4 separate regions of the Homo sapiens genome follow, and all the other regions are linked to region 3. The links come from fine-mapping of genetic effects on gene expression. A gene starts in region 3. Each other region holds a variant in brackets. All regions are shown on one strand. Distances are between the middles of the regions. Region 1 overlaps NUCKS1 (nuclear casein kinase and cyclin dependent kinase substrate 1). Region 2 holds the start of LOC124900423 (small nucleolar RNA SNORA72). Region 3 holds the start of RAB29 (RAB29, member RAS oncogene family). Region 4 overlaps RASSF5 (Ras association domain family member 5).

What was found. PIP is the estimated chance that this variant, and not a neighbour inherited with it, causes the effect.
Region 1: its variant is fine-mapped to the expression of RAB29 in naive CD8 T cells (Schmiedel 2018, PIP 0.95).
Region 2: its variant is fine-mapped to the expression of RAB29 in whole blood (TOPMed, PIP above 0.99).
Region 4: its variant is fine-mapped to the expression of RAB29 in pancreas (GTEx, PIP 0.96).

Annotation. Positions count from the first base shown.
Region 1 is chr1:205,708,311-205,716,401 of GRCh38, reverse strand. It overlaps NUCKS1 (nuclear casein kinase and cyclin dependent kinase substrate 1), which reads left to right. Exons shown (of 7, transcript NM_022731.5): 7 at 1-3,580. Among named protein-coding and RNA genes, the nearest start is that of SLC45A3, 32 kb to the right of the region's middle. The variant G/TG (reference allele first, on the strand shown) is at 3,882.
Region 2 is chr1:205,728,460-205,736,566 of GRCh38, reverse strand. It overlaps NUCKS1 (nuclear casein kinase and cyclin dependent kinase substrate 1), which reads left to right. Exons shown (of 7, transcript NM_022731.5): 2 at 6,946-6,995. It overlaps LOC124900423 (small nucleolar RNA SNORA72), which reads left to right and starts at 5,215; the gene lies at 5,215-5,346. The variant T/C (reference allele first, on the strand shown) is at 4,947.
Region 3 is chr1:205,770,649-205,778,755 of GRCh38, reverse strand. RAB29 (RAB29, member RAS oncogene family) reads left to right here and starts at 3,274. Exons shown (of 6, transcript NM_003929.3): 1 at 3,274-3,483; 2 at 3,670-3,923; 3 at 6,189-6,260; 4 at 7,103-7,284; 5 at 7,902-8,023. The coding sequence starts at 3,800. RefSeq lists an enhancer at 4,360-4,409.
Region 4 is chr1:206,513,166-206,521,272 of GRCh38, reverse strand. All of the region lies in intron 1 of RASSF5 (Ras association domain family member 5), which reads right to left. Among named protein-coding and RNA genes, the nearest start is that of RASSF5, 9.7 kb to the right of the region's middle. The variant C/T (reference allele first, on the strand shown) is at 4,462.

The DNA.
Region 1 (8,091 bases), 62 kb after region 3:
TATCCATTTTTAACAAAGAAGTTTGTGTTCATATAGTAAAAGACCTATCAGTGTTTCCACCATGCACTTCTATTTTTTAGGAGTTTATAATTTTAAGTCTTACATTCCTAGTAACATTTGGGCTTTTCTTAGGTTATGTTTCGTGAAGATTTGGGGGGAGGGCTCTTTTAAAACTTCAGCCTCAGTTGTTTAACAGTCTCTTTAATATATTAATCTGCACTAACATCTCTGTGATATATGCACATATTTTAGAGGTAATCATGTCTTCTAGATTACTTGTGTGCATTTGATTGGGCTTCTTGTTTAGGGTCCCTTTTAAAATTAATTCATTAGATTGAAAAATGTATTCTATATTTCTGATAGACTGGACAGAAGGATCTGTGTCCCCAAGTGAGACAGGCTCTGAATAACCTTTGTTTTCTCCACTTTTTATTGATGATTTAAAACACTCTAGTCTTCCCCTCAAATCATGCATGCAAATAGGAGGACAGTGGTGGTGACTCAACTGGATACAGGTGCTCAATAGTCAGGCTTGATAGTGATGTCAGGACGCATTACAAGCTGTAAGCCGATACTGACTGGCCATTGGCACCATCCTTGACTAACCTTCCTCTTTTTCTCTAGTGTGCCTATGGTGAAATGGCAATAGCATTCACTGTCGTATTTTGCAGTGCTCAGGAAGTGGGACGTTAACTTTGAAGGTGCTTGTTTGTATTAGCTCTGCTAGGTTTACCTCTACAACGTAGATTTCAGCAGCTATGCTGACTGACACTACATTCTAGTTCTTAAGATTTTTTTTCCAGATCCCCCCTTCCCCAGCTAGACATACGTAGCATACTTTCATCTTATTCAGTCTTTCTGTAACCTGCTGCTGCTTTTAGTCCTCCTCACCTCAGATCGGAATCAATGGAGTGGGCCCAGAGGATACATTTTAATTCCAGTAATGGTAGGTAGATTTGTCCTGCTTTCTAAAACATCTCCTCATTTCATATTTCCACTCCATATTGATTCCATAAGGGAAAATTAATGGGTGTTTCCTCCTTTAGGGAGGTAATGCAAAGAGTGTGGACATCTTCTAATCTTGAGGAACAGTAGTTGATTTCCCTTGAAGGAGCTTACATATTGACTGTTTTCACAATAACCTGTTTGCCCCAGTTCAATCCTCATTTTAATACTTAATTTGGTACTGGCTCAAATAGCATTTTCTTACAGATAACAAATCAAGAGTGAAATTTGAGGTTATACTCCAGTAAAGTTTTTAACACTTGTGAATATGGTCAGCTAGACTAAACTTGACTCTTTTTTTTAATGGCTTTTTTATCTGTGAACATTCAGATAAGTGGATTTTCAAGTACTGGTTGGGGATGGGAATCGTGCTTTTCTTTAAACTTCAGTTTACGAGATGCTTTGAGAGCGTTAGGCAAAAGCAGAAATAAATATCAGGAGCAACGGGGAAAGCTTTATAAAAGATCATGGTGGCCACTGTTGCAGCTTTGAAGAATGAGTGCTGGCTTGAACAGTTCTTTGCCTGCATCATTGGTAGCTGCACTGAAAGGAAAAAACTTTCACCTTAAGAATTTGAAAAGGAAGAAACCTGGGCTCTGGTCTTCATGGCATTTAGACTGAGATGCTTAAACAGAACAGAAGTAATACGCATTTCCTGCCATAGGATAGGGAAAATGTAACAAGCTGGTTGCTCTTGAGGTTAGAAAATTGTCTGTTTCTCTGTGGATGAAGCTGGATTTACTTGAAAATGGAGAGTTGGCTTATTGTTTGAATATTGGGACATCAAGCTATCTATAGCCAAGTTTCAGTCGCAACCAGTTTTCCCTTTGTCTGGGGTAAATTCGATACAAAATGATTCTTTTTGAATCCTGAATCCATAAATTACACTTTTTTTTTTCAAATTCACAAAATTCACAGTGGTGCTGACTGTGTAATAACCACTATTGGGAAACATCCCGTAAACCTGCCTGTTGCCATGCCAATGGAGTGACTGAACTGGTGACATCTGTTTGAGCATGCTTTGTGTGGCTGGTAGAATGCCACCGTTGTGCATACACTTTGTACATCAGGGGTGAAGGGAGGGTTTTCTAGATTATTGGGGGAGGGTAAAATTGGGATTTTTTTGTTGTTCCTTTTTTGATGGGGTGTGGGGGTATAGTACTCAGCTTATGCCCTAAAATAACATGTATAAAAACCCCTGAAGTATTGTGTGGGTGTGTACGTGTGAGTGTGTGTTTGTATACATCTGGCAATTAAAGCTTTGTCTTCTGGAACTTAGTGAATTCTTTTCTCTTTTTCCTCCAGAAGTATTTGTTACAAGATTTGTAAATAAGAGCTCTACTTAGTTTGTTTACCATGAACATGTTGCAGCAAACCTTATGCATCTAATTCCTACAAGGTTAAAGAAAGGCTTTTAGACTTGCCAGGTTAAGCAACAGCCAAGTTCTCAGTAATTGTTTGCCTTGATTTATCTTTTAGACTTCATTTTGCCAGCTCTAAAACTCCCAGTCTTCCTTGATTTTAGTCCTTAATCTTTTATGTTCTGAGCAGGAAGGGTAAAAGACAGGAACCTGCTTCACTGTATTAACTAGTCCATGGGCTGAGACCGGGGCATCTCTTTTCTTCATACTGCAATGTTGCTAGATACATGATCAGACACCAGAGGGTTGGGCATTCTTGCAATACCTTAACAGTGCTGAAATCTGCAGCATGGTACTAAGGAAGTTAAAGTTTGAATGTAACCACTTTATTTAAAAGGTTTTTTTCTTTAATTTAAATGAAATGGGGTTGAAGTGAACATGATTTTGTTGACCATGTTCGTGAATTACAGATGCAACATGCATTGGTAGAATCGTGTGATGGTCTTTTGTGATACTTAATTTTTACATATCCCAGTCTCTGTATGTATCTGCATAGACAAAGAAAAAACAAACTCCTGCTTTGCTTTTATTGAAGGGTTTCCAGGACTGCGTGTCTGCTCCTGAGCTCTGTTTTAAGTATGTGTATCCTTTGCTTGTATTTTGTATTAAAAAAATAAGAAAAAGAAGCCTTTATTGTTGAGCATGTTGGCATTGTCCCCTTTATTTTTTTCTCTTTTTGGGACATATGAAGCAAGTTATTCTTTTTCTGTATCTTTTTTTCTTTTGTAAACTTTTTTTTTGTTTTGTTTAAAAATGGCTTTATAAAAGGGCTTTTATAACCCAGATGTGTGCTCTGTGTACTTCTTGTAATACCTTAAAGCAAACACACTAACTTACACAGCTTTGTTAATCAGCTCCCAGTTCAGCCTGACTTTGTGGGAACTTATTTCCCTAATAAATTATTTAGAAACTTTAACAGTGACCATCCCTGTTGTTGGTAAAAGATAAACATGTCTTGGTTCAAAAGTTAATACCTCAGGATGGAATCAAGAAGCAGTAGACTTACCAGTTTGATTAATTAAGGGAGCACTGGACTGGGTGCGTAAGGATTCTTAATTAGCATTTTTTCTCATGTTTACATCCAAGGTTATGAAGTGTTGTGGAAAGCAAAGTTTAACAATCATATATAATAAAAGATAATGTTTATACTCACAGAACACACTTGCATTCAATTCCAAATACCCATAAGAACTACGCTGAATTTTGAATTAAAGATTACTTGTTAGGTGGACAATGTGGTACAAGATCCCTCTTTAGAACTGGGCTGATATTGTAGCTATTAGGGCTTTTTTCTTTTTAACTTTTCCTCTTGTTTACATACTTGCCTTGTCAGCCAAATACTATAATTGAAATGCAAATTTGGCTTTGAAATTAAATGCTTTGTGCATCCTGTTATCCGTCAGTGACTAGCTAACTTTTTAAATTTCTTTCTTTCTTTTTTTTTTTTTTTTTTTT[G/TG]AGATGGAGTCTTGCTCTTGTCGCCCAGGCTGGAGTGCAATGACATGATCTCAGCTCACTGCAAACTCCACCTCCCGGGTTCAAGTGATTCTCCTGCCTCAGCCTCCCAAGTAGCTGGGATTACAGGCATACACCACCACACCTGGCTAATTTTTGTATTTTTAGTACAGACGGGGTTTCACTATGTTGGCCAGGCTGGTCTTGAACTCCTGATCTCAAGTGATCTGCCCACCTCGGCCTCCCAAAGTTCTAGGATTATAGGCGTGAGCCACCCCTCCCGGCCATTTTATTCTTTTTCGGAGATATGAGAGTCTTGCTATGTTGCCTGGGCTGGTCTCAAATTCCTGGACTCAAGGGATCCTCCTGCTTCAGCTCCCCCAGTAGCTCAGATTACAGGTGCAGGCACACTGCCCACATACATTTATTTCTTAATATAATGAGTTGTCTCAGGTTAAAGTTGAATTTGGATGAGCATTAACCATCTACTTTTCCTCATAATCCTTAAGTATTTTATGGATAACATAGACAATTTTATGTTTCAGGACAGTGCTGAAGAAATGCAGTCTGATTTAAAGGATTTCAAAAACCAACAAGTGGATAAACAGATGAAGAGAGGTTAAAACACACTTGGAGCTACCTAGACTCCTATCCATGAACATCGGTATACAGTACTACACTGTAGTTGTGCAACACATATTACCTCATTTAATTTTTCCAACAACTGTGAGATCGGCAAGTGTTTGTTCTTCCAATATTGTAAAGAATAACCTGGTTCAGGTAAGATGAGGTTTTATGTGGTACCTGATGTAGCTAGTATGTAGTACAACAAGGGTTTGAATCAGTGCTGTGTGCTTTAAGTTATCACAGTTGTTCGTTCTAAAGCCAGCTCCCTTTGGTATACATGGGTCCCTTAAGCCTTCTTCCTGGTATTGAGCTTTTGAGCATTTTGCTGTTCTCTCACATCTCCCAGTAACAGTGATACTTGAACCAGTCCAATGAGTTACATCAAAGATTTAATGGGGAAAGTCGGAAACTTCAATGAGTAAGGAGATTTCTCATTGAATACTTCGGTTTGCTTGAAAATCCTGGTGACCCCTAGACACAAAGCCTCAAATTATTTAAAAGCTTTTATTTTCTGATTATGTCTCATGATAGTGACTGTTGAGGAAAATGTTCGTCATGTTGACTGTATAGCAGTTACAGTCTGCCAGTAGAGGGCAGTGTTTGTCCTCCATAGGTAGTGGAATGCTTGCTCTCCCCATCTCATTTTTAGATACTATCAGACTAGGCTCAGGACATTTTTAGATACTGTCGGCTAGGCTCAGTTGATATTCTGCAAGTGTATCAACACCTTGCCACTTACTTGGGTTATCGAAGCCCTGTGATCAGTGTACCCAGTTAACATCCTAATGTATGTAGCAGCAATCTTTTCTGAATTTTAAATAGGAAATAGAATTTCTTGATTCATGCACATCTGTCTTCTTGTGTTGTTCCCTCTTTATATCTCCTAAGCCTATGTGGATAACATCCCGAAATAGAAGTGCAGACTGAAATTTCAAAATGCAGCTGTGAACTCTTTGCCCTATTTTGAAACAGGTGTTGTCTTTGAAATTGCCTTCCAGCTCAAAAGCCTTGTTTCTTGTACAATCAGCACTGATATGTGTTCACACACAACAAATACTTAGATTTGTTTTCAAGGTAATATGGTAGTTTGTGTTCCTTTATCTTGATGACTTGCTTCTCTTTTCCTCCATTATCTTACTAGAATAGATAGGTACTCATTTTGACATGCTTTGGCTGGGTCACCACCAAGAGAAATCAGTATTATTCATGGGTGTGCCCCCTGGTTCAATAGTAAACCCTGCACAAATATTGTGAAATAAATGCTGTGTTAATTCTGGGGTCAGGGAGTGAGAGGGTACAGCCAGAGTTCCCATCCTAATAAAGCAAATAATTACTTTAAACTATGATAACAAAATGTTGGAAATAATTGTTTGCCTTGATTTAGCAGTAAGCTGGCACCCAGAAGGGATTTGTTTAAAAATCTAACTTTAAGGAACAGGTTGATCAAGGAAGAGTACACATATATATTATTATTGGTAATGTTTTAGCTATTAAGTTGAATACACAAACCCTTTTATTAGAATGTGTAAGACCACCTCCTTGGCTGATGTACAAAGCAATGTGTGTAATAGTTATACTTTTTCCATCTTGGGAAGAAACACAAATACACAGTCTATATGTAGTCAGGGCTCTCCTGATTATAAGAGATTAGGGTAGATGGGTAAAGTAAGGCTCTGAAGGAGATAGAAAGTCATTGATCCAAGAAAAATGATAGCCTAAATTTTAGGATATGATAACTACCAATTTGGTAACCCTAGCTGATTGGTTATCTGGTAAGAAGTGTCTCATCCATAAAGAACTGAACGTGTGTAGTAATATAATTAACAAAAAATAAGGTGCAGTGGCTCACACCTGTAATCTCAACATTTTCAGAAGCTGAGGCAGGAGGATTGCTTGAGGCCAGGAGTTCATACCAGCCTGGAAAACAGTGAGATCCTGTCTCTACAAAAACAAAATAAACAAGTTAGCTGTGTATAGTGGCATGCACCTATAATCCCAGCTACTGGGGAGGCTTAGGAGGAAGAATCACCTGAGCCCAGGAGTTCAAGGCTGCAGTGAGCTATGATCGCACCACTGCACTCCAGCCTGGGTGACAGAATGAGACCCTGTCTCTTAAAAGATAAAAAGAAATAACGAAAAATAGATTGTGAAACACTGGTGTTTACCAAGAAGTGTGTAGACAGTGACCCACACTGGATCCTCATTTTGTGGCTATAAATTGGGTCTCTTGTGGTTCACTAATTCAGCCTAGAGGAATACAAATACTAAACACTTTAAAAATATCGTTTTACTTCTAAGGTAATCAGGAATAATGATATAGCTAAGCTCTTTTATAAGGCACTAAATGTCTTTAGGAATCAAAGACTCAATGGACGTTCTGTTTAGACCTTGGAACATAATCTGGGGCTTCAGTAACCTGACTTCAAATCTAATGCATGCCACATCTCAGTTACAAACCCCAAGCTCCCCCTGTTTTGTCTTTTCCTCCTGCTTCTGACCTAATTAACCCCATCTTTCTTTTCCTTCGTGTGTGTATGTGTGCGTGTGTGTGTGTGTGTGTGTGTGTGTGGATGAACAGTTAGTTTCCATGGGGTTAGCGTTTTTGAGGCAAAAATATTGTTTATACATCAACTAGATAGTCCTAGAGGTGGATGGGGAACCAGCTGTTCGGTAGAGAGCCACACAGTTGGCCTGAGTACAAGATAAATAGCATTCCTAAGCTCTGTTGTAGGGAATGCTGGTGTGACTTGAAGTACACAGGATATACACAGTATCTAGTTCAAAAGAGTGGTTTTTGTGCTAAACCTTATAAAATCACCAGTCCTGGGCCATTGGCAAAGCAAGTCAGTCCTTTTCTCACCTTGCTTTCCTTTCTCTTGCCATGCACTTAAGGGAAGCAATAAGACCTCTAATATTTAGCTCTTGGGCTACTCTTCTCTAGAAGTCAACACCATTGCACAGTCACTGTGCAATGAGAGAAGCAGATGGCTCTCTCTCTGGGAGAGCTAAGTCTAAGTAAGGACACACTAATAATACCAGACAGTGGAAACAGGAGTTCTTAGAGCACGTGTTGCTTCCACAGGTCACCTCTGAATTAGCCAGCAATATTTATTGACAATGAAAATTGTGGTGACTATATTCCACCAAAAATTGGGATCTGTGCTACAATGAAGAGTTCTTTCATATTCCTCAACAGGAAAAACAGTTTAAGGTATAGTTTGGTTCTCATGATATTGGCATGTCTGGATACTTCTATGGTTTAAGGGACTGAAGCAGACAATGTTGAAAACTGGAGTATTCCAGGTAATGTATGTGAATAGTATAAAAAGTGCAACAGGTGTTCCACAGCAGAGTTCAGAACAGCACATCGTGCTAACTATAGCATGAGTAGTCATTTGTTTTATTTGAACCCCCAATCACTTTTCCTTGTCTGGCGACCTGCTTTGGAGAAGCTATGTGGCTGGTTGCAGATGAAGTCAGATCAATCGACAGGGTGATCTTGGGCAAGTCAGCTTATCCGCCTACCTCCCACTCTATGCTCGTTTCTTCTTTTTATATAATGAGGATTATAAGGGACTGATTCTCC
Region 2 (8,107 bases), 42 kb after region 3:
AGGGGTGAGCCACCACACCTGGCAATTACTGGAATTTTCTTAGCATAGGCTGCCTTGGAGATCATGAGAAGTTCTCAGTCATTCTCTTCTAGGGATATTTGTTAACAGGATACAAGCTAAAGGTTGAATTAGATTGTCTAGGGTCCAGTAGCTCTACTACATATAATACTCTCAGCACCACCATATCTCCCACCCCCACGACCATCAGACTTTGATAGGTTTTATGAATGCTTTAAACTTAAAAAATGATTTAAAAATTTTTGATCTAAATGGTAACCTGAACTTTGCCATAAAGTCAGAAATAAAAATAGGGAGGGCTGGATGTGGTGGCTCATGCTTGTAATCCTAGCACTTTGAGAGGCCGAGAAGGGAGGATCACTTGAGGCCAGGAGTTCAAAACCAGCCTGGGAAACAGCAAGACTTGGTCTCTACAAAAAAAAATTTTTAATTTACTGGCTGTTGTGACACACACCTGTAATCTCAACTCCCCAGGAGGCTGAGTTGGGAGAATTGCTTGAGTCCAGGAGTTTGAGGCTATAGTGAGCTATGGTCACACCACTGCACTTCATGCACTCCAACCTGGATGACAGAGCAGACCCTGTCTCCAAAAAAAAAAAAGAGATATTTTGGTATTACATTTTAGTGAGATGAACAAGAAAACAAAGACAATCTTTCTGAATGATACTAGAACCAATACTTTTAAGACTTACATATTTTTCAACAAAGTGACTTAATCATCATATCCAAATAAGAGTTAGTTATGTGTTCAAAATTACAGTGGTATTCTGGGTGGAACAAGTTAATACTTATAAGTAATAATAGCTGTTATTGATATTTATATACCTTGCACAAATGTTCTGAAATGTTCTCAACACTCTTGTTATTCCTGTAACAGGTATTGTTATTCCTGTTTTACAGATGATGAGACTGAAGTTCAGTCAGGGGAAGTAACTTGCTTGAGGATATACAACTAGTAAGAGTCAGGACGTAAATTCAAGAATCTGTGTTTTTAACCTCTCTGCTATATTGAAATTTTATGCTGTCCTCCAGTTCTAGTTATTGATACTCATTTTACATTGAAGAGTTAGTTTAGCTTTGGCATTTAACTATCATGTGTCACATAGCACCAGGGATACATTCTGAGAACTGCATTTTTAGGTGATTTGCATGTATTTCCACAAAACCAGATGGTGTAGTCTCCTGCACACCTAGGCTGTATGGTATAGCCTATTGCTCCTAGACTACAAACATGTATAGCATGTTACTGTACTGAATACTGTAAGCAATTGTAACACAATGGTAGGTATTTATATATCTAAACATAGAAAAAGTACAGTAAAAATATGCTATAATAATCTTGTGAGACCATTGTCATGTATGCAGTTCACCATAATGTCATGCAGCACATGATTGTATTTTGAAGAAATTAGAATGTTTCTTTGTTTTCACCTAGAAATAGAACCTCTCATGCCCTGGGACTTAAATGAAATTCTTAAATGCTGGATTTCTGTCCTATCATCTCATTAGGAACAAATTCATCAAAAATGTATTTCAACCCCAGACAAAGCAAGCCTTTAAGTGGTGGAAATAGTATGTTATTTATATTATTTTGAATAAGCATCTTTAGGAGGCAGGACATTGTTTGGGAAATAAACTTTTTTATTTTTTTTTTGAGATGGAGTCTTGCTCTATCACCCAGGCTGGAGTGCAGTGGCACAATCTTGGCCCACTGTAACCTCCACCTTCCGGGTTCAAGCGATTCTTGTGCCTCAGCCTCCCGAGTAGCTGGGATTACAGGTGACCGCCACCACGCCTGGCTAATTTTTTGTATTTTTAGTGGAGATGGGGTTTCACCATGTTGGCCAGGCTGGTCTTGAACTCCTGACTTCAGGTGATCCACCCACCTTGGCCTCCCAAAGTGCTGGGATTACAGGCGTGAGCCACCAAGCCCGGCCTGAACCAAATTATTATGAGTCATTATGAGTCATCATGAATGGCCCTTGTTATCACAGATCTTTTATTTATTTATTTTATCTTTTCCCTCTTTAGCATTTATGGATGACTATATTTGTTTCTGACTGGTTGCCCTTAATAAGGCAGAATTGCTTCTATATTCATATTTTGCTTTACACTGATTTTATGGTATTTGTGATAAATGGCATATGAGATCATTCTGGCTGTTTTCAGATCATTGAAAGTTAAAATACTTCATATTTCAACGGAAGGGATAGTCTTTCAATTTAATTTTAAAATTTAATTGTTTATATAATGCCAATATAGTCTACATGGCATTTCTGTAGTTCTGTTTGTTGAAAAGTAGGATAGAAAAATATGTACTAAATAAAAAGTATCCTTTTTAGTGTCTTAGGTTTAAAGTAACAAGTTACAGGCCAGGCCTGGTGGCTCACACCTGTAATCCCAGCATTTTGGGAGATTAAGGTGAGAGGATTGCTTGAGGCCAGGAGTTTGAGACCAGCATGGGAAACATAGAAAGGCCCCGTCTCTACAAAAAAAAAAAATTGTTTTTAATTAGCCAGGCATGGTGGCTGTGTGCCTTTCTGTAGTTCCACAAGCTAAGGTGGGAGGATCACTTGAGCTCAGGAGTTGGAGACTGCAGTGAGCTATGACTGCCACTGCACTCCAGCCTGGATGACAGAACAAGACCCTGTCTCAATTGTTGGATGGATGGATGGGTGGACGGACAGATGGAAGATAGGTAGGTAGGTCTGTCTAGATAGATACAGATAGATATACAGGGAAGGAGGAGGAGATTAAGTTTTCTTCTGTTGTGGAGGGCAGTTAATTTTTAATGACAAATGCCATGAAAAACAGTATTGTGATCATAATGCAATATGATCATTTGCAGTGACCATTTTCTATATTATATTTTAATATAATGCCTGCCATTTATGTTATTTATTAAATATTTTATTTATTATTTAATTTATTATTTAAACATTTAATTTTATAGAATATCTTTTAGATCTGTCAAGCAATTTAGGTTATCAGTTCCAACAGAGGAAGAACTAAGGCCCAGAGAAATTACATGATTTTCTTGACATTCTAGAACCAGAACCCAGGATTCCTAGTACAAAGAGTCCATACTAATTCCTTTCTTGAGTGTTTCTAGTGATAGAGTAAGGAAGTAGCCATTGTTAGCAGACAGTTAAAGCTCTTTATGTTGAACCTACACTTAATGTGATTGCTAAAGCTAAGCTGTACCTCTACTACTCCTTTCACATCAAAGCCCTAAAGTAGCTAACATGTTTTCCCATTTTACAAGTTAAATATTCTCAATTTATTCATTTGTTCTTCATATGATATACCGTTTACCATTCTGGTTGTCCATCCTTATGTAGTTTCATAGGATATATCCATTGCTACGTCGTACCCAGAAATGGGGTAATAATATGTTAGTTGCCACCCCACAAGCATGGGATAAGCTAGAATTATACCTACAAGTTCGGAACCTGTATTTTAATTATTAGAGGATAAGATGTAAGAGTTCCTCTTCTAGATACCTTTCTTCCCCTGGTTCTATGACCCATTTTTTTTATCCTAAATAATACAGAAAATGGTCGTGTTTGCATTATGATCATCATACTATTTTTCATGGCATTTGTCATTAAAAAATCACTGTTTTGCCAGAACATGGCAGGCATTTCCATAGTAGCCCAAAAATATTAGATTTTTTCATAGTCATATTTTTAAGAAAGAAAATATATTTTTATTGTAATAAAATATGCTTAGCATAAAATTTACCATCTTAACTTTTTTTTTTTTTTTTGAGACAGAGTCTTGCTCTGTTGCCAGGCTGGAGTGCAGTGGTGCGATCCCTGCTCACTGCAACCTCTGTCTCCCAGGTTCAAGCAATTCTCCTGCATCAGTCTCCCAAGTAGCTGGCACTACAGGCACGCACCACCACGCCCAGCTAATTTTTGTACTTTTACTAGAGACGGGTTTTCACCATGTTGGCCAGGATGGTCTCGATCTTTTGACCTCATGATCCGCCCACCTTGGCCTCCCAAAGTGCTGGGATTACAGGCATGAGCCACTGTGCCCGGCCCATGTTAACCATTTTTAAGTGTATAGTTCAGTATTGTTAAGTACTTGACATTGTTGTAAAGAACTCTTAATCTTGCAAAACTGAAACTAAACCCACTAAACAACAGCTCCTCATCCCCACTCTTCCAGCCTCTGGCAACCACCACTCTACTTTCTGTCTCTCTGAATTCATCTACTCTAGGTCCCTCATGTACATGGAATTAATAGTCATATTTAAAGTTAGCTTTCCTAATAATATAGTATCTTTGGTAATATAAACTCAGCTTCTTACAATAAAATATATAGTTGGAGTATATTTTATAGTTTTGTTAAACTAAAGAAAAACAGAAGGTGGAACTCCTTAAGAGCCTTGTTTTTTCTCTTTCTAATGCTGAGTATGTAACTATATATTCCTCTACATATAAGCCCAAGCCTTTTTTTCCAGAATTCACCTCCATCCATACCATCTCCACATACTATACTAGAAGGTGGACCAGTGTTTGCAGTCTGACCATCCTGTCTTTGAATTTAAATGGTGTCTTAATCTATACAGCCAAGAATATCCCTCTGCTCAGGTTTAAGTATAGGTGGTAATGTATATTTATCTTAAATTTTTTTTTTTTTTTTGAGACGGAGTCTCTCTCTTTCGCCCAGGCTGGAGTGCAGTGGCGTGATGTTGGCTCACTCACTGCGAGCTCTGCCTCCCGGGTTCAAGCCATTCTCCTGCCTCAGCCTCCCGAGTAGCTGGGACTACAGGCGCCCGCCACCACACCCAGCTAATTTTTTAGTATTTTTAGTGGAGACGGGGTTTCACCACGTTGGCCAGGATGGTCTCAATCTCCTGACCTCGTGATCTGCCCGCCTCGGCCTCCCAAAGTGGTGAAATTATAGGCGTGAGCCAC[T/C]GCGCCTGGCCTATTTCTCTTAATTTTTTAAGTTCACTTGATCAATTTAGGCCTACAGTAACAGTGCATTTTTTAATCTAAGGCTCTTTTGCCAGGTAGGCTGTTTGGGTACTAACATGGAAGCTTACATGTATATCTCTAGAGAAGAAGTATTAAACTTTTAGATTTAGAGTGCAGAGTACAAAAATAGAAATGAAGATTTGTTTGAGATGTTAAAGATACGTTACTTGATAGGGAGTACTTAAAGTCATTTAGAGTCAAATAGATTCTGCAGATATTCTCACTGTTTTGATTTTGTAATAGTCAGGACAGGCTAACCATTCACTTTATTAAGACCATGCATATATCCCCAGAACTAGTTCTTTCCTGAGGTCTAGTTTTATAAATGTTGCTGATAAACCAGGTCTGTAAAATTGGAAAAGGAAAAAAAAAGTTTAGAAACAAAAGAATAGAGTCAAATACATAGATGTACATAAATCTGTGAGGCTTTCATAGTTTTTTAAATAAAGCATCTTTTGACTGGACCAATTAATTTGTTTCCTTCCCCTTCTGTATAAAGCTTAACATTACCATAATTTTTGTGCATTATAATGTAACTGTACTATACCTAAAAATTGCTTTTGCCTTGAAAAGCTTAGTAATAACCTTGTTTATCAAGTATACATATATATGTGTGTAGCAGTAAGAGTAAAATATCATTTACAACTTTAGCTTATAAATAGGGCATCTTTGTATATAATGAATACATAGGTACATGGTGATTTGGCTCATTTTGCTGTTTTATGTATATTTGTTTTGAGAGACGGGAGATTGTTTTGTAGAAAAGAATGGTATTTGAGACCGGGCACGGTGGCTCACGCCTGTAATCCCAGCACTTTGGGAGGCCAAGACGGGCGGATCACGAGATCAGGGGAGACCAGCCTGGCCAACATGGTGAAACCCCGTCTCTACTAAAGATACAAATATTAGCCAGGCGTGGTGGCACACGCCTGTAATCTCAGCTACTCGGGAGGCTGAAGCAGGAGAATCGCTTGAACTTGGGAGGCAGAGGTTGCAGTGAGCCAAGATCTCGCCATTGCACTCTAGCCTGGGCGACAGGGCAAGACTTCATCTCAAAAAAAAAAAAAGAGAGAGAAAAGAATGGTATTTGAATTATCACTGAGATGAGCAGTATGAGAATTGTAGCTTGACATACTTGTGGTTTATGCTATGCTTTCTTATAACAGAATGTTAAGTACTTAGGCTTAAGTGGGGGCCTTTAAAAAATAATTTTTGGCTGGGTGCAGTGGCTCGTGCCTGTAATCCCAGCACTTCGGGAGGCTGAGGCAGGATGACTACCTGAGCTCAGGAGTTTGAGACCAGCCTGGGCAACACCAGGAGACCCTGTCTCTACAAAAAATGAAAAAAAATTAGCCAGCATGCGTCTGTAGTCCCAGCTACTCAGGAGGCTGAGGCAGGCGGATTACTTGGGCCCAGTAGGTCAAGGTTGCAGTGAGCCATGATTGTGTCACTGCTCTCCAGCCTAGGCGACAGAGTGACACCCTGTCTCAAAAAATTAATTAAATAATTTTCTTTTTTTTTCTTTTCTTTTTTTTTTTTGAGATGGAGTTTCACTTTTGTTGCCCAGGCTGGAGTGCAATGGAGGTATCTCGGCTCACCACAACCTCTGACCCCTGGGTTCAAGTGATTCTCCTACCTCAGCTTCCCAAGTAGCAGGGATTACAGGCATGCACCACCACGCTTGGCTAATTTTGTGTTTTTAGTAGAGACAAGGTTTCTCTATGTTGGTTAGGCTGATCTCAAACTCCCAACCTCAGATGATCCACCAGCCTTGGCCTCCCAAAGTGCTGGGATTACAGGTGTGAGCCACCACGTCCAGCAATTAAATAATTTTCAAAGTGCTAGTTCAGTTCTGTTTATGAAAGAGAAATGTGTGTTCTGATGTCTTAGAAAAATCCTACAGTTTTATGATTTTAATTAGAGTCTCTTCTTTCTACAGAAATAGGAAGGTTGTTGATTACTCACAGTTTCAGGAATCTGATGATGCAGGTAAGTTTTGTGGTTTCAACAAATTTTAAGTTGGACTGACCAGTGGAGGTTACCAGCTTATATAGTTTTATTATGCTTTTGGAATAAGTTTTACTTTTTTATTTTTAGATCATTTACCAAAACCATGTCATGATCTGTGTCAACCAAAGCAAAAGTTGAACTTACATGGATTTTAACTTTTCCTTGGTAAATCATTGATAATAAACATTAAAAAGCTTTTTTCTTACCTGGTTTTGGAGTCCAAAGTTTAAATGTCCAGTAATTCTGATACAGTGTTCATTGCTTAAAATATCTCCTGCTGTCAGCCAGTCGCCATGGCTCATGCCTGTAATCCCAGCACTTTGGGAGGCCAAGGTGGGCGGACCACTTGAGGTCAAGAGTTCCAGACCATCCTGGCCAACATGGTGAAACCCCATCTCTGCTAAAAATACAAAAATTAGCCGGGAGTGTTGGCATGCACCTGTAATCCCAGCTACTCTGGAGGCTGAGGCAAGAGAATCGCTTGAACTCGGGAGGCGGAGGTTGCAGTGAGCCGAGATGGCGCCACTGCACTCCAGCCTGGGCAACAGAAAGAGACCCTGTCTCAAAAAAAAAAATCCACTACAGCCAGGCGCAGTGGCTCACGCCTATGAATCCCAGCACTTTGCAGGGGAAAAAAAATCTCCTGCTGTTACTACAATAAAACTTGTGCCTTGTATTATGTTTTTACATAATAAAGCAACTAAGATGAGAGTCTGTTTTGTGAAACAACTTATATTTATGAACTAATTCATCAAGGAATGAGTGTTGTATAGCTAAGTCTTAGCCATAAGAGGTTTTTTCAGAGTTGTCTCCTTAATCTCATTACTTTCCAGGTATGTTTACTATTCTTTTTTCTTTCTTTTTATTCTAACTTTTCTTTATAAAGATAATATGTGCCCTTTGGGAAGACTTAGAAAATACTGAAAGATATGAAGAAGAGAAAAAAAATAATATGTAGCACTAATATTTATTAAATGCTTGCTACATGTCAGGAATTGTTTCAAATGTTTGTATTTAATATTTACTTAGAATAATCTGTTAATGTGTGATATACTATTATTATTTCTATTTTGAGTATCTTGTTAATAAAA
Region 3 (8,107 bases):
CCTTGAACCTAAAATAAAAGTTGGAGAAAAAAAAAAAAGGAAAGTATTACTGAATATGAAGCAGAGAGGATGAGTGGGAGAAACCATTTACTGAAGAAACAATCAATCAGACATGGTAACTGAATTTTTTTTAAAAGGGTATAGACCAGGTGCGGCGGCTCACGCCTGTAATCCCAGCACTTTGGGAGGCTGAGGCGGGTAGATCACTTGAGGTCAGGAGTTCAAGACCAGCCTGGCCAACATGGTAAAACCCTGTCTCTACAAAAAAAATACAAAAATTAGCCAGGCTTGGTGGTATGCGCCTGTAGTCCCAGCTACGCAGGAGGCTGAGGCACAAGAGTTACTTGAGCCCAGGAAGCAGAGGATGCACTGAGCCAAGATCATGCCAATGCACTCCAGCCTGGACAACAGAGTGAGACTCCATCTCAATAAACAAACAAACAAATAAATAGGTATAAAGGGACATGTGTAAAGGAAATAATAATGCTCAGAATCTGAAGTCTACATGGAGGCAAGAAATGATGAGACCAGTGACAGAAATAGGGAAGCTGAGAAAAGGAGCTATTTTTATGGCAATGTAGTAAGAGGAAGGATGTGGCAGGACATCCAAGTGGGGGCACCTTTTGGGCAGCTGAATATCACTGATCAGAGATAAAGAACAAATAAAGTGTTAATGGTAGCTATGATAGCGGTTATCACCAGTGCCGTGAGTATTCCTTCATTAAGGGCTGACACAGAGAACAATTATACTTATTGGGTATATTTATCAATCTTGGCTGGCAATAATGCCTGGATGCAATCACTTTATGACGCAGTTACACATGCTTTCTGATCTCAGTATTTACCATAATAAATCTGCTCCTATAATTGAGGCATACCGCCCTCAAAAACTTATTTGTAAACAGGATTGGACCCAGTTAGAAAAAATGAACGTACTTGTTTAGGAAGATTGCATTGCAGAACAGGCAGAGATGCTGCACAATGATTCCTATGGAATCATTATTAATTGGTCCCCTAAGGGGATGTTTAGCTTGAATTGCACCTCTCAGTCTGCGTGCCACGGCCACACTATGTTCAGCTGGTCTGAACAAAATGGTCAGATGGTAGATATAATAAGAAGTACAGCAAGAGTTCCTATTATCTGGAACCATGGCAGTATAGTGACACCTCAACCTCAAATGATATGGCCCGCTCTAGGAGCTTAACATAAGGATTTAAAATTAAAAGAAGAAATATTTAAAGCATCCGAGGCACACTTGACCTTAATGCCAGGAACTGGAGTGCTTAAAGGAGCCGAAAATGGATAAAAACACTTGGAAGCTCTGTGATTTCAATGATGATTGTGCTTTTAATCTGTGTTGTTTGTCTTTGTATAGTCTGCAGATGTGTATCCTGACTCCTGCGAGAAGTAGCTCACCGTGACAAAGCTGCCTTTGCATTTATCAATTTGCAAATCAGAGAAGAGGGACATGTTGAGAGCAGGCCCCCCAAAATCTGGCCATAAACTGGCCCCAAAACTGGCCATAAACAAAATCTCTGCAGCACTGTAACATGTTCATAATGGCCCTAACGTCCACGCTGGAAGGTTGTAAGTTTACAGGAACGAGGGCAAGGAACACCTGGCCCGCCCAGGGTGGAAAACCGCTTAAAGGCATTCTTAAGCCACAAACAATAGCATGAGTGATCTGTGCCTTAAGGACATGCTCCTGCTGCAGTTAACTAGCCCAACCTATTCCTTTAATTCGGCCCATCCCTTCGTTTCCCATAAGGGATACTTTTAGTTAATTTAATATCTATAGAAACAATGCTAATGACTGGTTTGCTGTTAATAAATACGTGGGTAAATCTCTGTTCGGGGCTCTCAGCTCTAAAAGCTCTAAAGGAAATCAGACCCCTGATTTCCCACTTCACACCTCTATATTTCTGTGTGTGTGTCTTTAATTCCTCTAGCGCCACTGGGTTAGGGTCTCCCCAACAGAGCTGGTCTTGACAGAATATCACTGATCAGAGATAAAGAACAAATAAAGTGAAGATAGATCTTTGACACCAAGGACAATTCACTAAAGAGTTTATCGAATGATTGACTCAGAGACCAAGAATCAGGCCTTAGGAAATACTTAGCGGGAAATGGGATGGAGAGAAACCTGAAAGAAAAAGATAATCATCAGAGAAGTACGGGGATGACAAAGAAAGAACAGCGTCATAGAAGGCATAAGGGAAACAAATGTCAAGGAGTGGTCAACTATGTCAAAACGAATAAGAACAGAGAAAACTGGATCCTTAAAGATGAGTAGCTTGAACTAACCTCCTGTACCTGGGTAACGAACATTCTGGGCAAAATATATTGTGAACCATGCTGATGTTCTTTCGCCACAAAACATAAGTGATAGCCTCTCTATCAAGAGACCTAGATTTCCTAGTGTCTGGTCCTGGGCTGTTTTCCCATGGCCCCGCTGGTTCTCTTCCTCTATTCCTAGAAAAGTATAGAAAATGGAGCTCTCTTTGCTTGCCATTGAGCTCATGTCCTGCCAACTTCTACCCAAGTGACAGGTAGGTCAGTAAAGTTACAGGCTGAGAAATTAAAATTATTTGCCAAACACTAGTTTTATGATTATCTATTAACAACAGCCACAACAAATCAAGAAGGAGTCCCAGTGTATTTCAATTAGCTTCTAGCTCAAGTGATACATGAGTAGTATGGCTAGAATAGGCATTGTAGAAGTATGAATGGAGAACTGTCTCTTGTTTTCTGTCCATCTTTATTGTTATTGCTGGATATTAAATGCTGTAATTTTTGGCATAGGTTTTTTTCCAAAGACTGGTCTCTTGGGTCAAGTTTTCCTGAACTTGCCTGGTATTGGGCAAGTTCACACAGAAAATATGAGTCATTTCACAAAGTCCTGGGCTTGTCTATCTACTTGAAGGAATAGGAAATGGACTTCACTTGGAGCATGATGGATGAGGCTTGGGCTTTTACTAATGAAATAAGTTTCAATCTTAACTCAGTTAAACCTTTAAAGACAGGAGAAAACTATCTGGGGATGGATTCAGGCCAGTGAGATCACGTTGCACAAATCTCCCCTTAAGGGATCTTTACTGACCTAGAATTGTTTCAAAATAAGATTCCAAACTGTCGAGGGAGTTTGAAGCCTTGAAACTTGGTGTAGGTTTGCTTAAAACAAAATAACGAATATACTACATTTCCCAGGAGGCTTCGCGGTGAGCCTCCGCACTCGGCTGGTTCTCTTTACCGCGAGGAAAGCTGGGAAATGTAGTGCCACAGGCAACCCTGCACGTGACGCTTGCGGAGGAAGGGGAGAGAGAGGCGCGCGGGAGGGCGTCTAGGGAATCGAGGTGCCGGCTGCTCCTTCCTCACAATTTGGTTTGTGCTGCAAGGGGAGGGTCCCCATCATCTGGCCCCAGTGGTGTAAGGAGCTGACTGGGATTCAGTCACTGACTTGGAGCCGCTCGGGGGAAGTCCCGGTGGGTGAGGTTCCGCGGCGCCTGGTCCAGTTTCTCGGCAGTCAGGCCAGGAGGGGGTGGGGAAGGTGCGAACAGCCGGGGGCTCGGAGCTCGCGCCCTGCGCCCCACCCAGGTTGCGGCCGCCCGGGGAGGAAGCGCGTATAGGTTGAGTGCAAAGTTTCCTTTTTTGCTTTCTCGTCAGAGCAGCCCAGACAGGCGGTGGGTGGGAATGCCTCACTTCAGTTTGAAGAGGGTCCGGATCCAAAGGGGTTAAAACGAGCGACCCCCGATCCCCGACCACACTTCCCGCCTCCCTAAAACGCACACCCCGCTAGCCATGGGCAGCCGCGACCACCTGTTCAAAGTGCTGGTGGTGGGGGACGCCGCAGTGGGCAAGACGTCGCTGGTGCAGCGATATTCCCAGGACAGCTTCAGCAAACACTACAAGTCCACGGTGGGAGGTGAGACGTCTCGGGGGTGGGGAGGGGGAGGGGGAGGAGGAGGCCCCGACCGCGGACTCGAGCTGGGGACCCAAGTGGGGTGGGGATTTGCTGTCGGTTGTTGGGTCCTTCTTCGGGTCAGGAAGTACTGTCTGGGAACCTAGATGGTGTAATTGCCGGGTGTTTGGTTTACACGCCTCTCTTGAGTTTCCCGTTAGATTTTCCCAAACTGAGCCCACTGCCAGGAGAAAGGTAAGAGCAAAGGCGTGAAGATGAGAAATAGGGAAGGGAGGATGAGGATGAGCAATTGCTGTTTATTGCAGGCGTACTGTGAACTTAAGTCTCCAGCCTTTCAGCTGTCCGGCAAATCTCTCCAATCAGCAGAAGCAGCTGAGATCCTCTGTGGGGCCTCCTGGTTAGGTGCCGGCTGGGGCTGTAGTCCTGCCCCTCTGTTGAGGGAGGAACCGCAAGGTGTTTAACCTGGCTTCAGTGGGAGAACGCAGGAAGCGGAACTGGTCTGAAGGACTGTAGCTTTGTTGTGGGGCTGTGGGTGGGATGGAAGACACAAAATCCCCGAACGAGCCCCTTGGCTACGCAGTCAGATGCCCATGAGGGCTGATGAGCTGTGTTTTTGTCCGTTGATTGCTTAAATAAAGGTAACCAAGGAATTCTTCCAAGAATGTGAAATATACCACTTCTCTGACCTATCTTCCCACCACTTTTTTCCTCAAACTGGAGAAGGTAGGGAGGAAGGGGACACCGAGTTCATTCATTTCTTTCCCGGGTGTGGCCTTTGGACTCAACTATTTTTTCAGAGGCAGAAATGCCTTATTGTTAATTAGAAGGTATTTAGCTAGGAAGAGCTGGTGATGGGGGAGAGTAACTTAAAATTTTATTTCTCTCTGTTAAAAGAACTTGTTTCAAGGGGGGAAAACTCGTACCAATGGAAAAATTGAAAATGTGTGCTCCTGTTCATATGGAAGTTTAAAAAGAAATTAACAAACATTTACATTGCAATTAAAACATTCTCCTTAAGAACCCCCAGTAGGGCCCAGTACCGTGGTTCATACTTGCAATCCCAGCACTTTAGGAGGCTGAGGCGGGAGGATTGCTTGAGCCCAGGAGTTCGAGACCAGCCATGGGAAACATGGCAAGACCCCCACCTCTACAAAAATTAAAGAAGAAAGTAGCCGTGGTCCCAGCTACTCGGGAAACTGAGACGAGAGGATTGCTTGAACTGGGGAGGTCGAGGCTTCAGTGAGCCCCGTTCGCACCACTCACTGCACTGTAGCCTGGGCAACAGAGTGAGACCCTGTCTCAAAAACAAAGGAACAAAAAATTTAAGTCTGGCAAAATTAAAGGTTCAAAGTTTCAGACACTCTATCCTGACCGCTCTGCCCTCCCACTCCTAAATAATATAAGGGTCCCTATTTCACGGATTTGGGTTAAAAGTGGCCTGCTATTAATAGTTAATTTTTAACAATTGCTGTAGTTTTCCTTTAGCAAAGAATATAATTGGCTAATTTTTTTTTCAGTGTTTAGTCTAAATTTCCCTTAGCTTTGATTCCTGTCACAGATGTGAAAGATAATATTTCCAAACCTCAGAAATTACTCTGTTTCTCTCCTTAGCCAAAAGGCTTTCCCCATGGAATACTTACTCAGCCTTAAGGAGTCTCAGCACCTGCAGACTTGGTGGTAGATTCCAGCAGGACTCTTCAGCAACATCCACACAGTGTCTTCTTCTTGGGACTCCTCTGGGACCTTTTCCATTTATTCCATTCTTGCCCAAGATAATACCTGCAACCTTATGGTGGATGTAGAGTTCCCCAGGGTGTGTTCTTTTCATAATACAATTTGATTAGAAACCAACAGTGAAATTGAATGTGGAAGATACGAAAGCAACCACACTTGTCTCATTTCCCCCTTCTCCCCCATCACCCCTTCCCTGAGAAAACCCCCTAAATCTCCCAGAAACTATTTAACCTGAGAATGAGAATTGTTTTCATAGTTACTCCCACCCCCAGTCTTGGAGACAAACAGTAGCAAATAAATGAGCTTGACAGTAGAGTAAAAGCTGGAAACCCCTTTGGAGAGTGAGTATGAATCATCCATCTCACACTAAATACACGCATGTGGACTCATCTCAGTGAATTGAGGGCTTAAAGTTAAACATATGGGATTGGAGTTGTGTGTCCATAGGGTTTCACTGCCTATTTGATTTGAGTTTATCCCTATTAATTTTTTACAGTGAAATTTTATTAAAGTATAATGTACATATATTTTCAGTGGATTTTGCTCTGAAGGTTCTCCAGTGGTCTGACTACGAGATAGTGCGGCTTCAGCTGTGGGATATTGCAGGTAAAGTGGGAGGGCTAGATAGGAACAAGGGAAGAAATTTTGATTTAACTAGAAAGCTCTGAGGAAAAAATGGGGCAGCAAAGCCAGAAATTGTTTTTCTGAAGCTGGAATGATTGAGCTGCTCTGAGGACACATGAGCTGAATAGGTGCAGAGCTTTTGTAGATGTTTTGCCCTGAATAGATCTGGAGCAGTCTCTATGTGGATGGAGGGGCTGGCAAGGTGGTGGATTGTCCAGACTATAGGTGGACACTCCCACAGCAGGGGAGGGTGCTTTTTCTAGGTTTAAGGCTGACCTTGGTGAAAAACAAGATCCCCAGAAAATAGATACAGTAAAAATAGTGAATCCTTACTATGTGCCAAGCATTCTTCTAAGTATTTTAAATTCACTGACTCATTAATCCTCACATCAACCCTATCATAAAAGCTACTGCTTTTGGAGAATTGCTTGAACCTGGGAGGTGGAGGTTGCAGTGAGCCTAGATGGCACCACTGCACTCCAGCCTGGGCAACAGGAGTGCAGGAAACTGTTTCAAAAAAAAAAAAAAAAAGCGACTGCTTTTATCTTCACTTTACAAATGAGAAATCTGAAGCACTGAGAGCTTGATTTGCCCGAAGTCAAATAGTATGCAGCAGAGCAGGGATTTGGACTGGAGCAATCTGGGTGCGGAATCTGCCTTGGAAATAATTGGGCTTCATTATCCCTTTATGGGATAGAAAACCAAGAGTCAGAGGGGGAAAGTGAGTGGCCCCATCTGACACATATGCTTACTGCCCTCTTCTACAAGGAATGGGGAGAGGCCGGCTCTTGGGTCACCTTGAGAACTCTCCCCTTTCTCCCCAGGGCAGGAGCGCTTCACCTCTATGACACGATTGTATTATCGGGATGCCTCTGCCTGTGTTATTATGTTTGACGTTACCAATGCCACTACCTTCAGCAACAGCCAGAGGTGGAAACAGGACCTAGACAGCAAGCTCACACTACCCAATGGAGAGCCGGTGCCCTGCCTGCTCTTGGCCAACAAGGTATGTGGCCAATCTCAGAAAATGGTCCCTAGCCTCTATCTGTGGTTAGAAAGGAAGTAAAATGCTCTCTGATTCTGGGCATCCATTTCCCCTTCTTAAGTTGGCAAAATCATCTCTACCTCCTTCAAAGGATGTTGAGGGTGAGTGAGACTTTCTTTCTTTTTTTTTTTTTTGAGACGGAGTCTCGCTCTGTTGCTCAGGCTGGAGTGCAGTGGCGCGATCTCGGCTCACTGCCAGCTCTGCCTCCCAGGTTCACGCCATTCTCTTGCCTCAGCCTCCCGAGTAGCTGGGACTACAGGTGCCCACCACCACACCCAGCTAATTTTTTTGTATTTTTAGTAGAGACTGGGTTTCATTGTGTTAGCCAGGATGGTCTCGCTCTCCTGACCTCATGATCTGCCCGCCTCAGCCTCCCAAAGTGCTGGGATTACAGGCGTGAGCCACTGCGCCCAGCCAAGGGTGAGACTTTCTTTGGGAAGAATGTTGATTATAGATTTCCGATGCTGGTGTTCTTATCCATTGGTGGAAATATGTTTAAAATCCACAGTATCTGAGCCATATTCTTTCTTAGTTGCAGGAAGTTTATGATACTGCCTTTTATTTTTTCTCTTTGCTAGTGTGATCTGTCCCCTTGGGCAGTGAGCCGGGACCAGATTGACCGGTTCAGTAAAGAGAACGGTTTCACAGGTTGGACAGAAACATCAGTCAAGGAGAACAAAAATATTAATGAGGCTATGAGGTAAGTAGCTCATGCTGATAGGCATGCAGATGTATCCATCTTCCACTGTGGCCCTGTGGACCCTCTTTTCTTATTTCTGAGCCA
Region 4 (8,107 bases), 740 kb before region 3:
GCTGGAGACACACAAAGGTTTCTTTACAGCTGCATCGCTGCAGCCAGGACCACCAGAGACTTCTGGAGAGACCTAGGCCTATTTCCCACAGACCCCCCTAGCAGCCTTTTAAAATGACATATGACTTGCTCCTTGGCGACATGCTTGCTTAGCTCCTAAAGATACCCGGTGGGCTAATCTAGCTCTGCCTGTTAATTATGTGATGTGGTAAACTCAATGATAGGAATTTTTCCAGGGAATGTGTTTGTGAGTTTATGTCTCTCCTCTACTTTTACCTGGGCAACCTTCAAGTCCTATGTCTCCCACTGAGATGCAGGCAGTCCACCCTGGTCCAGGTACAATGGAGGGGCAGACAGCCGTGCTGCAGGCTTGTCCCAATGACCCACGGGGAGCAGTTATGAAAAGTCTTCCTGGGAGCACTCAGCAACAGCAGCTCCCAGTGCAGGGCTTTCTATGCACCAAACATGGTTTCAACTGTTTGACATTTAATTTACCCCACACCAGTCTGAGGTTGAGATATTCTGCCCTATCCTATACTTGGAAAAATGAGGCTCAGAGAGGTTAATCTGTAGGAGGAGCCACAGCCAGAAAGTGGTAACTCCAGGATCCTGACTCAAGGCAGCCTGGCTCCAAGCCTGTTTTCTTTTCTCTTTTTTTTTTTTTTTTGAGATGGAGTCTTGCTTTGTCAACTGGGCTGGAGTGCAGTGGCGCGATTTTGGCTTACTGCAACCTCCGCCTCCCGGATTCAAGCAATTCTCCGGCCTCAGCCTCCCGAGTAGCTGGGATTACAGGTGCCCATCTCCTTGCCCAGCTAATTTTTCTATTTTTAGTAGAGACGGGGTTTCGCCATGTTAGCCAGGCTTGTCTCGAACTCCTGACCTCAGGTGATCTGCCTGCCTTGGCCTCCCAAAGTGCTGGGATTACAGGCGTGAGCCACCGCGCCCGGCCACCAAACCCATTTTCTTAAATGCCACACTCCAGGCTGCTCATGGAGTCTTGTGAGTGAGATGAGGATATTCCAGATGTCCACAGTCTGCAGTCCACCTTTCCCATCATCTTGAGCATCCTGTCTTCTCCCCTCCTCTTTTGGCAATTAAGCCCAAATGCTAACACAAGTTAAGCAAGCCCATCATAGCCACAGTGCGGTATGTGCCCTGACCTTAATGCTGCCCCTTCAGGCCTGATTGATTTTACTTAAATCTATAACTCCTTGGACTGAATAGCAAAGGAGCGAGGAAATGATCTGCTGAATAATTCTTAAAGAGAGAGTAAGGGAGGGGGAAAGAGAGGATGAATACCAACTTGCTCGTGAGCATTTAAATTGAGCAACTCGGTGTCCAATTCTCTTCTCAGTGAAGGTCACAGTATGTATTAGGATATTGATGAGGATAAATTATTCAGGCTGGCTAAGAAATATTTGTCTCCAAATGGGGATTAGGGCTAGTTGAATTAAAATTCCCACTTCTCAAGAGGTAAAGCCTTAATCAGAAAAATCGTATTTTTCATAGTCAAGATCCTATTTTTAAAAATCTGCTTCCAAAACTTAGTCCAGAGATGGCACTTCATTTTAGTCCCATCCCTATGACTTAGTGTGGTGACCTGCCTAGATCCCCACTGATTCTTGAAAGTATATGAGAGAAGTATAGAGAAAAATGGGGACAGGGGGCCCCAAGAAAAGTATGTATGCTCCAAAGAGTGCCAACCGTTAAAGAGAAGCAGGTTCCAGACCCAGCCAGATGGCAATGACCTTTAACAAGGGGCCTTACTTGTCTGAGCTATCTCATCTGTGAAACAGAATAATCCCCTTCCCATTCCCACCACACCAGGATCTGGAGGGAATAAATGATATTAAAAGCAAACAAACGTAAATGCTCTGAGTGTTTAGCAGAGAGTGCTACAGAAGTGTAAGATGCTGTGGACAGCATGAGACAGCGGAAGGAATCCAAGGCTGGAAGGCAGGTGCCCAGGGTTCATAGTCCTGGCACTGCCACCAGCAGGGCCTTTTGTTGGTCCCAGCTTCCTTTCATTGGAAAAGGGGCATGGGATGACCTAAGATCCTATGATGATTTGGATTGCTGTTGTCTCTGCCTCTTATCTTTCACTCACCGCTATGCCGTCCAGTTATCCTTCTTCAGGCGAGGACTGTTCTTGCCCTAATTAGTGCTCAGGAGAGGAATCAGTGGTCTGGCCACTTCCCGAGGCCGGGACTCCTGTCAGCTGTGCTCCACCCAGCAGCCTTCAGCCCCATGCAGCCTGCACCTTCACTAACTCTGCAGGTGAGAAGCCTTTGCCTGGGAAACATCACTGCTCCCAGGTCCTCAGAAGGCTGACTCAGCAACTTGGCAGGGTCTGAAGGGCTACAGGATAGGCAGAATGGAAAACAGTGGCCATCCGAGATACCCATATTCTGCCAGCTCAGGGACCCTGATTAAGACGACCGCTTGGCCCTAATTCTCAGCCAATAAAAAGTTGTTAAAATCCACTACCCACTCAAGGCCTCCAAAACAGGCAGACCATGTCCTTTGGATCTGGCTGTTCAACCCATACCAGGCAAGGTGACAGCACCTGTGCCTTTGTCCTTGCGGAGTCAGGAGGGCCAAGGAGTGGTGCTGAGCTCAGCACTAAACAGCAGACTGCCAGAAAGATCCTGTACTCCTTTTCTATGGGAGAAGCCAGTAGCAGAGGCCTCAGAACCCAAGCTCCCCCAGTCAGATTGGCTTAGACCTACCCCGAGCCCTCCGGGCCCCGTTGCGGAACCTCTGCAGGATCTGGTGCTTTTTGGAGACCGAGCGGCTCTTCGGGAGCCTGCAGAAGAGCCGCTGGAGCTGAGCAGTGACTGTCCCAAAGCAGGCAGCGGTTGCCTTCTCCTCCTGGCCCTCGGTCATCTCAGCGCCAGAGATCAATAGCTTTTCTCCAGGCTTGGCGTCAGGGGTGGAGTGCCGGGTGGGGGAGGGCTCCGGGGAGGGCCCTGGGCCTCGCATGACCTGGACAGTCACCTGGACCCTCAGGCTCTGGTACCCTCAACGACTGACGATGCCTTCTGTCTCCGCACTGAGGTCCTTTCCCCTCCACCTCCCCCAGTGGAAAACTTTCTATTCCTGGGGCTTTTAGCTTGATAAGATAAAAATGCCCCCACCAAACAGGCTGCAGGGAAGAGCCTGCCCCGAGCCTCACTTCTCAGTCGCGCCTGTGAGTCTGAAAATCAATGTCTCCAAAGTTTCAGACGACAGAAGTGATCGGTTACCTCACACCACGTGCCCAGCCCAGGAGCTCGTTAATGGATTTCTTTGGGGATGGTGGATTACTAATGCTTCACCAGCTGTACAGGCTCCTAAGGGACAAACTGGGGCTAATTCACATCCTCCCATGCTAAGCCCAGGGTGGGGGAGGGGCCCATAAGGAGGTGGTGTTGCTTTAAGAGGGTCAGGCCATTCATTTTTCTGAGACTAGATACCTGAGCAGAAGCGGATGTGACCCTATGGGTGTGGGGTGGTGAGAAAAGATCAGTCTGTCACAAAAGGGCAGAAATATTGTTCTCTTGCCCCAAAACAGTACTCACAGGTGTTCTCTCACTCTGACTCCCAGAAGCTGCCAAGCCCTAGTAGAAAAGTTCTGGGAGGCCCTGTTGCCCAGTCCAAGACAGAAGACTGGCACCAGACAGGCAGCAGAGCCTTCCAGAAAAGCCACTAGAGAGGGGTGTCCCTCCCAGGCTGCCCAGAGATGACAGGACTCACCTGCCAACCACCAGCGGGGACCAGCTTAACATGAAGGAGGGACACTTGTTCTTTTTTCTTTTTTTTTGAGACAGGATCTTGCTCTGTCATCCAGGTTGGAGTGCAATGGTCCAATCATAGCTCACTGCAGCCTCGACCTCCTGGGCTCAAGTGATTCTCCCACCCCCCAGCATGTAGCTGGGACTACAGGTGGGCACCACCACACCCAGCTAATTTTTATATTTTTTGTAGAGGTGGGGGTCTCACCATGTTCCCCAGGCTGGTCTCGAACTCCTGGGCTCAAGAGATCATCCTGCCTCAGTCTCCCAAAGTGCTGGGATTACAGGGGTGAAGCCTCCATGCCCAGCAGGGACACCTATCCCTTAACCAGAGGAAATCCACCTCAGAGGACTCACACACTTGCAGAATCTCTGGTGGAAGATGCACTTATACGTCTGTGCTCAGATGCCACCCTTCCTCAGTTGCGGACTGATTCTTTCTCCCTAATGCTTCCTCAGGGAGAAGGGAGCTGCCCATGGCCTTTGTTGTGGCCCTCTCTAGTTTACCAAGCAACCTCTGTACCAGAAGAAGGGCATAAGCAAGTCCGGGTCCTGAAATGACACTTGGGACCATCAAACAAGGGGTGGGGGCCAAGTTCCTTGCCCTGCTGGTCCTTGCACCCAAGATCTCCAAGAGGGCCTAGGAAGTCCTGCCTGGCTGAGCACAGGCAAGGGCTCATTCCCATCCC[C/T]GCCCTCAAAGAAGAGAACACAGGGCTGCTGGGGGAACTTTAAAATATGAGTCACGGCCAGGCGTGGTGGCTGATGCCCGTAATCCCAGCGCTTTGGGAGGCCGAGGCAGGCGGATCACAAGGTCAGGAGATTGAGACCATCCTGGCTAACACGGTGAATCCCCATCTCTACTAAAAATACAAAAAAATTATCCGGGTGTGGTGGCACGCACCTGTAGTCCCAGCTACTCAAGAGGCTGAGGCAGGAGAATCACTTGAACCCAGGAGGCAGAGGTTGCGGTCAGCCGAGATTGCACCACTGCACTCCAGTCTGGGCGACAGAACGAGACTCCATCTCAAAAAAAAAAAAGTCACGTGTAATGCGGGGAAATCCCTTCCGAATGCACCGTTTGGGCTGCAGAATATGCTGACCTCACTTCTCTTTTCTCCTCATCACTGAGCTGTTCTTTGACAGGTTAAGCCATTGGGAAAGACAACAGGAAAGAACTGGCAGAGTCTGGAGATGGGGCTTTCAGAAGCTCTAGGATCTTCATTCCTGACCTTTGGAAAACTAGATAGATTTTTCTACTGTAATGATGGTCTGGGAGGAGCACTACCTAGAGACAGGGAAATGCCTGCAATGACCTCTTGCTGTCTCTGACATCTAAGCAATGACTCAATGACCTCCATGCTGGAGGCAAGTTCAGCCATGGCCCAGCATAATTTGAAGCAACAACCTTCACCATCTTACTTGCTGGGGTACAATATATTATCACCCTATTTTATATAAAGGTACCTCCAGATGGCTTTTAAAAAACACTCATCACTAGGGTAGACATTCATGGACAATATGCTCAACGCTTTCTCTCAAAACTCTCATGTTACAGCTGGAATCTGTTCCAGTTGAATAATAAGGCATCTCTGAGGTTTTGTTTGAGGTGGGGGAGGTTAATACTTTCTTCAGATGCAAAAAATAATCCACATAATTCTTTCAGCAGAGACCACCAAGTCTCCAACTTCCATTCAACTTGGATAGAAAAAACAGCCTCCTGCAAATCAGCAAGAAAAGTAAGCAATGGTACCTGTTCCCAAATAAGAGATGAACCTGGAGAAATATAGAGAGTCAGAGCTGGCTTGGGGGTGGGAGGTTTCCCCAGATGTATTTTTTCTCATGGGGCCACATCACTGCCTGAGATTAGAGCCAGAGGTCCATTAGGCAGCTTCAGATTATTGTCCAGTCCCTATCCATGTCTTCTTCACCCTAGCTGTCCCCTCTAGGATCCAGTCTGTTAATTTCACTTTGGTTCCTGACTAGTGCTGTGTCATGAACTCTGAGAGCTGGGCCATGGCAAGAAGGAGGACTGGAACAGAAAAAGATCCTCCACCTGCATTTCCAGGCCCACCCCCTACACACCCTGAACACCTACGGGGTGAGGTGGGAGCGGGGAGAGACACACTTATTTCTTTCATCTTAGGATTTGGAAAAACTTCACCCTTTTTCTAAAGATCTCATGATTTGCACATGGTGACAATCAATTTAGAAACTGATTGTTGAAAATTGGCTTAAGTGGAGCCAACTCTCAATTACCCAGCCCTGGCTGATTCTCTAGCTTGTATAGGGCTCACCTCCCTTTTTTTCCTGTACCTCCTTTTTTGGACATTTCAGCATTCACCAGCAGAAGGGCAGCAGATGGATAAGTAAACTCAACTAACTTGCGTGATCAATGATATTAGCCTAAGGCAAAATGCCATGCTGGGTTCTGGTGCTGGCTTTGCTATTAATGATCTGGGTTATCTTAGCGAAGTCATTTGACTTCCCTGAATGCTGTGTTTCCTCATCTATGAGATGGCCCTGATTACATCAGTTCTACCGACGAAACAGAATTGCAATCCTGACAGAGGCAGTGCACATCAAACGGCCTTAGTGATAGCCAAGTGCAACAAAAGTTATTTCTGCTCCCACAGTTTCTTTGCCATTCTCAACTCTTCCTATTCCATGTGAATATACTCATCCTAGCAGGTTCACAGAATGCCAGCTTGTATCTTCAGCAAACACAATGATAATTCTTTTCCAGCTCTAGCATCCAGTAGAAACAAAACATAAAAGGATTTTAAAAAAATAAGAACATCACTCTTCTTTTTGGCCTGACTTTCATGAACCTGGAGTCTGATTTCTTAAAGGTCTATGTAAGCCAAGTTTTAATTTTCTAGCAGCCCCAGCCAATGGCCATTGCAGATGTCTAAATAAGACCTGCCCCACCCTGGAAATATGTTTGTTCAAAAAACAGGAATGGGGAGCAGAAGGTGGCACATAGGCCCTCCACTGAAGAATAAACCTGTCACAGGTAAGTGTCATACTCAGCCATCCACTCACCTGCTCAGTGCCACACAAAAATGAACAGACTACTCTTTCCAACACCACCCCTCTTATAGACCCTCAGCATGCACATCTTGCATTCCCCCCGATCCCTCTGCCCCATGCCCTCAAATGGGGCCAGGGCAGTAGTTATAGGTAGGAAAATCCGAAAGAAAATCTAGAACCTGCTACAATTCCCAGGGGTCACCAGACTCCTCAGCCAAAGTGGGGCATTCTCCCCTGGGAGGCTGGACACATGCTATGATGCCAGGAGGGACCCCACTGCCCTTCCTCCTTCCTCTCCAAAAAGGGTAAAAAAAGAGAATCAAACCTCAAAGATTTCCCAATGGGTACATCTCTCACAAACCTTTGTGTACTCTAGGAACCACAGGCATGCTAGAACAGGCCCGGCATGGCCTTGTGGGCCACTTCAGCCAAAGACCACACCATGGAGAGTTCTTGGGGTCTACCAGGCTCTGCCCAAGTCTCCTCAGCATAGTTATGAGTGCTTCAGAAAAAACTCAAAAGTCACTTCCCCAGGTGTGAGTCAAGATAGTCTTGACCTTGGGGTGGGGCAACCCATGACTGCTCCCAAGCCCCGACTTTATTCCACTTAAACCAGTGCCCCCAGGGAACCCAGCCTTCTGCCTGGTCTAACGTCATCACCTCAGCCTCCTCGCTGTTTCCCCTAAGCCCCAAAACTGGCTCTGTTCCCCTTCCGACCCTGAGATCCAGCCCGGAACATGTGGAGAAAGGCTTGCCAAAAGTCTTGGAAAAAAACTGAAAATGACTAAATGCAAAACCATCTCCCCAGTCAGGCCCGGCCTTCCCAGCTGCCGCCAGCCCTTCCCCACCCAGCCATGGAGAGTCAGAACAGAGCCCTGCGGGAGGGGCAGGTGCCCAGAGTCAGCAGAGACAGAGCGAGACCCTGCAGGGAGGCAGAAAGCATCCTGCCACCAGCACAGACCCAGGTCTGCAAGCTTGTGAGAAGGAAATCATACCAGCTGGTGCTGACTGAGCCCCAGGAACATGGTTCCCTCAGAAGGGCTGGGGGTGGGGAGCTTGCATGCTTTGCACACCCACAAATACTCACCCACCCAAGAATACTCACCTTGCCATCTGAGGAATGCGAACAGGAAGGGCCTCTGGTGAGGCCAGAGATGTGTTTACAGGTTCCTCAGCAGCCTTCATAGTAAGCCTGGGCAGAGCAAGAATGCCAGCAGCTGCCCTCCATGGGGAAACTGAGGAATGAGGGGTGGGTGTGGGAGCCAGAGAGAACCCTGTGGGAGAACACTGGGGTGCAGGAGCTGG